Homo sapiens: one gene and its partner. Changing the gene in region 2 together with the main gene of any one other region gives a genetic interaction. Each region holds a gene or a part of one and is shown on either strand. Other genes may lie near its edges. The genes, in order: TRNAU1AP and APOOL.

Region 1 (3,822 bases), on a different chromosome or scaffold from region 2:
CTGTAATCCTAGCACTTTGAGAGGCCGAGGCGGGCAGATCACCTGAGGTCGGGAGTTCAAGACCAGCCTGACCAATATGGAGAAACCCCATCTCTACTGAAAATACAAAATTAGCTGGGCATGGTGGCGCATGCCTGTAATTCCAGCTACTTGGGAGGCTGAGGCAGGAGAATCGCTTGAATCTGGGAGGTGGAGGCAGGAGAATCGCTTGAACCCAGGAGGTGGAGGTTGCAGTGAGCCAAGATTGCGTCATTGCACTCCAGCCTGGGCAACAAGAGCAAAACTCGGTCTCAGAAAAAAAAAACAGATCATACATTCTGCATTCATTTGTTTACTTGTGGTGTTTTGCATAGTCTATCTCTAAAATTTCCTGGAACTGGTTATTAGATCTAAAGTCTTGATGGGATTGCATAATACAATTTTGACAAGAGTATTCACACATGATAAAATGCATAAATGAATGTTTACTAAATGAGTCTGGGGCCAGGTGCCTTGGCTCATGCCTGTAATCCCGGAACTTTGGGAGGCCGAAGTGGGTGGATCTCCTGAGGTCAGGAGTTCAAGATCAGCCTGGCCAACATGGCAAAATCCCATCTCTACTAAAAATACAAAAATTAGCCAGGCATGGTGGTGGGTACCTGTAATTCCAAGTGTTCATGAGGCTGAGGCAGGATAATTGCTTGAACCTGAGAGGCAGAGGTTATAGTGAGCTGAGATCGAGATGATATCCGTCTCATAAATAAATAAATAAATACAGATAAACGAATCTTGGACTGGCCCAGATGGACAATCCTTATATTCAGGCTTGTAAATTAGGTCTGAGCTGGGGTATGGCAGGGAACAAAAACAGTGTTGGCTCAGATTAGAAAAACATTTCTTTCTCCCTTCAAGGCCAAGACCCATCTTGAGCCTTTTTTTTTTTTTTTTTAAAACAGTCTCAAACCAGCCTGTTGCTCAGGCTGGAGCAGTGTGGCATGATCTCAGCTCACTGCAACCTCCACCTCCTGGGTTACAGCAATTCTCCCCCTCAGTCTCCCGAGTAAGCTGGGACTACAGGTGTGCGCCGCCATGCCCAGCCAATTTTTGTATTTTTAGTAGAGATGGTGTTTCAGCATGTTGTCCAGGCTGGTCTCCTGACCTTCAGTGATCCACCTGCCTTGGCCTCCCAAACTGTTGGGATTATATGCGTGAGCCATCACGCCTGGCCTCATCTTGAGCCATTTTATCTTTAACCATTTTCTTTCTCTATTTGCTTTTTTTCCAGGATCCCAGCTGGCTACTGCTTTGTAGAATTTGCAGATTTGGCCACAGCTGAGAAGTGTTTGCATAAAATTAATGGGAAACCCCTTCCAGGAGCCACACCTGTAAGGACATTTAGATAATGATGATGTTGCCATTATTATTGTCATTGCTTACTACCATCTATTGAATCCCTACTGTATACTTATTTTATTTAATCCTAAAACAACCCTTTACAGTAGGCATTGTTATCTTTGTAGGCCCAGGAAACTGAAGCTCAGGGAATTGAAATAACTTGTCCAAGGCAACACAGGTAGTAAATGGCAGAGCCAGGATTCAGACTGAAGATTGGTTGCCTCCCAAATCCATGCCTTTCCATTCTGCATTGCTGCCTCCCATAACCGAAGACTTGAAACTCTAGACCTCTTGCCTGATTGGGAAACTAGAATAGGCTGGCAGCAGCAAGGACACATTTCAAGAGAGTTGCATTCTGCTCTTCCCACAGTTACTTAGCTTACAGCTGCACCAGCTGGCACACCTGGGCTCATAGAACCATGGAGCTGGCAGTGCCCTTAGCGGTCATCCGTGCAACCCCCTCATTTTATACAGGAGAAAAAGCTGAGGCTTAGAGAGGGGGAGATGTTTTGGCCAAGGTAATTTATTTCAGTTTTCTTCAAATATTGTTCAACTCTTGAAACACCTTTCTCTGTTTTAGTTTGTTTGTTTTTCAACTTCCAGGCGAAACGTTTTAAACTGAACTATGCCACTTACGGGAAACAACCAGATAACAGGTAGGTACAAAGTCATGTCTAGACAGACATAAGATGTGTCACTGTGCCTGTCACTGCCATATAGGAGGAGGGGAGCCGGTTTGGCTGCACTTGGTTCCCTCCTGAAGGACGACGCTCTTCTCCCTTCCTTGCTGGTGGACCTTCCTGGTGTGCTTCATGCAAGACCCTGGCTTTTCTGTATTTGGTCCCTGCCCCTGGCTTCCTACCCTGCTACTCCTCACAGTATTGAAGTTTTATTCAATAAGAATTGCCTTGTTAGCCAGGTGCAGTGGCTTACGCCTGTAATCCCAGCACTTTGGGAGGCCGAAACAGGCAGATTGCCTGAGCCTAGGAGTTCAAGAATAGCCTGGGCAACATGGCAAAACCCTGTCTCTACAAAAAAATACAAAAATGGCCGGGTGTGGTGGCTCACTCCTATAATCCCAGCACTTTGGGAGGCCAAGGCGGGCGGATCACGAGGTCAGGAGATCGAGACCATCCTGGCTAACACGGTGAAACCCCGTCTCTACTAAAAATACAACAAATTAGCCGGGCGTGGTGGCAGGCGCCTGTAGTCCCAGCTACTCAGGAGGCTGAGGCAGGAGGCTCACCTGAGCCCAGGGAGGGCTACAATGATCAAGGCTACTGTGAGCCATGATCGTGCCACTGCACTCCAGCCTGGGCAACAGAGTGAGACCCTGTCTTAAAAAAGAAACCCAATGAATTGACCTGTTATAGCAACATAAATTGATTGGAATTTCAGGTTGCCATTTGAAAGCATTAAAACGGTGTACCAAAAGCTTAAAAAACATTTATATGCATTAACCCTATAATTCTACTTTTCAGTATTTATTCATGGACGTGTGCAAAGATTAGCCTCAGATGTATTCATTGAAGTATTGTGTATAATAGCTAAAGTTGGGGAAAACCCAAATAACCTAATAGTAGGGAAGTGATTAAATTATGGTCATTAGTTAGGATGCGGTGTATCCACTGACAAGTCATTGCAGTATACTGACATGTCAAGATATTGGCAATATGTTGAAAATGAAAAAAAATACTAGAAACAAAATACGATGGATCGTATTTATGAACATTTAGAAGAAAAGCCACAAGAAAAGACAAAAGTATACATATCAAAGCATTTATTGTGATTGTCTTCAAGTGGTTGAGTTATAGCAATTTTATTTTTCTTTGCACTTTTGTGTTTTTTTTTTTTTGGAGACGGAGTCTCACTCTGTTGCCCAGGCTGGCGTGCAGTGGCACGATCTCTGCTCACTGCAAGCTCCGCCTCCCGGGTTCATGCCGTTCTCCTGCCTCACCCTCCCGAGTAGCTGGGACTACAGGTGCCTGCCACCACGCCTGGCTAAATTTTTTGTATTTTTAGTAGAGACAGGGTTTCACCGTGTTAGCCAGGATGGTCTCGATCTCCTGACCTCGTGATCTGCCCACCTCAGCCTCCCGAAGTGCTGGGATTACAGGCGTGAGCCATCGTGCCTGGACTGTGCTTTTGTGTATTCTTTTTTTTTTTTTTTTGAGATGGAGTCTCACTCTGTTGCCCAAGCTGGAGTGCAGTGGCATGATCTTGGCTCACTGCAATCTTTGCCGCCTGGGTCCAAGCAATTCTCCTGCCTCAGCCTCCCAAGTAGCTGGGATTACAGGCACCTGCCAATGCGCCCAGCTAATTTTTATATTTTTAGTAGAGATGGGGTTTCACCATCTTGGTCAGGCTGGTTTTGAACTCTTGACCTTGTGATCCACCTGCTTCGGTCTCCCAAAGTGCTGGGATTACAGGCATGAGCCACTGCGCCTG
Region 2 (3,822 bases):
CTGAAAATCTATTAAAATTTTTTTTAAATGGGCAAAATATCTGAACAGATACTTCATCAAAGATACACAGATGACAAATAAGCGTATGAAAAGATGCTTAACAGCATATCATTGGAGAATTACAAATTAAAACAACAATGATATACCACTGTATACCTACTAGCAGGGTGAAAATCTGAAACATTGACGACGGTAAATGCTGGGGAGAACATGGAGAAACAGGAAGTCTCATTCATTGCTAGTAGGAATGCAAAATGATACAGCCACTTAGAAGGGTAGCTTGACAGCACTATTCACAATAGCAAAGATATGGAATCAACCCAAATGTTCACCAATAACAGATTGGATTAAAAAAATTGGTACATATACACCATGGAATACTATGCAGCCATAAAAAGAAATGAGATCATGTCTTTTGCATGAACATGGATGGAGCTGTAGGCTATTATCCTTAGCAAGTAAACGCAGGAACAGAAAACCAAATACCACATGTTCTTACTTATAAGTGGGAGCTAAATGATGAGAACTTAAATGATGAGAACTTACAAACACAAAGAAGGAAACCACAGACACCTGAGGGTAATGGGTGGGAGCAAGGAGAGGAGCAGAAAAGACAACTACTGGGTAATGAGCTTAACAGCTGGGTGATGAAATAATCTGCACAACAAATGCCCATGATACGAGTTTACCTGTGTAACAAATCTTCACATGTACACCTGAACCTAAAATAGAAGTTGAAAAAAAAAGTAAATAAATAAATAAAAGTAAAAGGCTCATTCACCATGATCAGTAAGTTTTATCCCAGAGATGCAAGGATGGTTCAACATATCCAAATCAATAAACATGATACACCACATTAATAGAATGAAAGACAAAAACAACATGATCATTTCAATGAATGTGGAAAAAGCATTTGGCAAAATTCAACATCCTTTTGTGATAAAAACTCTCAACAAATTAATTATCCAAGATATGTACCTCAACATAATAAAAGCCATATATGATAAGGCCACAACTAATATCATACCCAATGGTGAAAAGCTAAAAGCTTTTCCTCTAAGATCAGGAACAAGTCTCTTGCCACTTTTATTTAACATAGCACTGGAAGTTCTAGTCAAAGCAATCAGGCAAGAGAAAGAAATGAAAGACATACAAATTGGAAAAGAAGAAGTAAAATTGTCTCTTCTCCCAGATTACATGATATTATACATAGAAGATCTTAAATACGCCACCAAAAAACTGTTAGAACTAATAAATAAACTCAGGGAACTGCAGCATACAAAGTCAACATACAAAAAAGCAGTTACATTTCTATACACTATCGAAGATGATCTACCCAAAAAAGAAAGAAAGAAAGCAATCCCATTTAAAATAGCATCAGAAAGAATAAAACACTTAAGAATAAACTTAACCCAAGAGGTCAAAGAGCTGTATATTGAAAACTATCAAACCATAATGGAAAAAATTGAAGATACAAATGAATGGCAAGATATCCTATGTTCATGAATTGGAAGAATTAATGTTGTTAAAATATCCATACTACCCAAAGCAATCCACAGATTCAATTCTAGTGGCATTTTTCACAGACATAGAAAAAATAAACAATTGCAAAATTTGTATGGAATCACAAAAGACTCTGAATAGCCAAAGTAGGTGTACAACCAAAGCAAATGAAATCAGCAATTGCAAAGATATCTGCACTCCCATATTCACTGCAGTATTATTCACAACAGCCAAAACATGAAAACAACCTAAGTGTCTAATCGAAGTGTCTGCCAACAGATCAACGGATGAAGAAACTGTGGTATACACACACACACACACACACACACACACACACACACACAACGGGTTATCATTCAACCATAAAAAAAAGAAAGAAATCCTGTCATTTACAACAACATGGATAACCCTCAAGGGTATTATGCTGAGTGAAGTAAGTCAGACAGAGAAAGACAAACTGCCTGATTTTATTTGTACGTGGAATTTTGAGAAGTTGAACTCACTGAACTAGAGAATAGAATGCTGGTTCCCACAGGCAAAGGTAAAGGAAAGGCGAGAGGTTGGGAGGTTGGCCAAAGGGCACAAACTTTCAATGACAGGTAAGTTCAAGGGATATAATACACAGCATGGTGAAGTGATACATATAAACTAATTTGATTCTGGTAATCATTCCACAAAATATATGTATATCAAATCATCACACTGCACACCTTAAAATCAAACCATTTTATTTATCAGTTATACCTCAATAAAGCTGGGGAAAAAAAGAAAAAAAAATACATAAACCCAGAGGGTCTTATAGCTACCTATTCCCTGGGGACATCTTGAATTTACCATTCCCTAGAACGTCTTAATAGCTAAAATCATAAATTCAGCAAGTTTTTCTCTGAGTGCAACCTCCTATCATTACAGTTTCGATTTCCTTACTGATCTATTTCAGTTCTTACAGGTAAAGTTACCTACCTTAGAAGACTTTTAGTGAGAATTAAATGAAATAATGAGTATCAACAGCTTAGCGCAGTACCTGATACACAGTAAGTCCTCAATAAATCATAGACAAATTTTGATTTTAAGTATGCATTAAAAACAAATTATCTGCCAATACCCAAATTGTCTTCAAACTCACTCTCAACCTCTGGCATTAAATGAAACTTGGCTTTTATTTGACACTACTATTATACATTCCTCCCAATCCACTTAATTGAAGGCCAGACCCCCAGGAATTCCCCGATTCCAGAAGACCCGAGAGATCAGCACAGTCCTTGCTTCTCAAGCACCATGATCTCCACAAATCTTAGCCATTTCTAACACAGTTACCCTACTTTGCAATTATTAGAAATCGTTTCACCTTCAAGATCCTAAATGCTTGAAATTTCCCTCATTAAAATAGAATGCTCTTTCAACTCTCCTACTCTTTTTGAACTAGTTCTTCTTTCTCACTATGGCCATAAATCTTCTAGTACCCTAGTCCATCACTTCAATCTTCTTCTTTGTCTCCTTATCCACAGTGGATGACTATTTGGATAAATTCCCTAGATCTTCTATCATTCTCACTTTGACAACACTCAGCATTGGAGCAACCCCACTGTCTCCTCTTCCCCTCCTATGCTGTGAGCACTGCTGGAGAAAGTCACTACTAGAGCCAACATTAGCCAGGCCCTCACTTCTCAGCAATTATTAATATTTTATTCAATGTCTACTGATACTTTACTGAATTTCCTAAAGCACCTTTTCCAAGCCTATCCCATTCTTAAACTCCTAAAGGCATATTTTCCTCTCAGCAGATGACCTTCCACCCAGAAGATACAGACCTCCAATGTGAGCTCCCTCCTCTACCTCCTCCGTTCTTCAAAATCACTTGGTATCTTCACCTTCTATCTCGACCAACTCTGGCCTTTGAAGCAAAGTGTGTCTCCTCTTTGCAAGGTTAATCCCTCCACTTGTTCTCTTGATTTTACCACTTTCTTACAAAGTATGGTTAAGAGTCCAGGTTCAGGACTCATACCATGTGATTTCAGATCCAGCTCTACCACTTTACTCCTGTGTGACCTTGGAGTTACTTGACCTTTTTAAGCTTCTGTTTCCCTACCTGTAAAAAGTGATTAATATAAATTCCTACTCATAGGGCCAATGTGAAACATAAATGAGAGAATCCACATAAAGTGCTTAGCAAAATTCCTAGCACGTAGTCAATATTCAATAACACAATAGCTGTAAATACTATTATCTTTCCCTCTAGATACCTCCTGGTACATTTTCCCTTGTCTCCAAAGTAGCTCAAGTCTTCTGTCTCCTGTTTTGTTTTTAGTTTTTTTTTTT

Evidence for each region.
Region 1: changes in APOOL (region 2) and TRNAU1AP together harm fitness more than expected from each alone (negative genetic interaction), as found in Homo sapiens cells (one large-scale study listed by BioGRID).

What each region holds. Positions count from the first base shown.
Region 1 is NC_000001.11:28,559,369-28,563,190, forward strand, and holds part of TRNAU1AP (tRNA selenocysteine 1-associated protein 1), read left to right. Parts: intron 1-1,264; coding exon 1,265-1,364; intron 1,365-1,744; exon of another isoform or gene 1,745-1,892; intron 1,893-1,977; coding exon 1,978-2,030; intron 2,031-3,822. UniProt on the Homo sapiens protein: Involved in the early steps of selenocysteine biosynthesis and tRNA(Sec) charging to the later steps resulting in the cotranslational incorporation of selenocysteine into selenoproteins. Stabilizes the SECISBP2, EEFSEC and tRNA(Sec) complex.
Region 2 is NC_000023.11:85,006,561-85,010,382, reverse strand, and holds part of APOOL (MICOS complex subunit MIC27 precursor), read right to left. Parts: intron 1-3,822. UniProt on the Homo sapiens protein: Component of the MICOS complex, a large protein complex of the mitochondrial inner membrane that plays crucial roles in the maintenance of crista junctions, inner membrane architecture, and formation of contact sites to the outer membrane.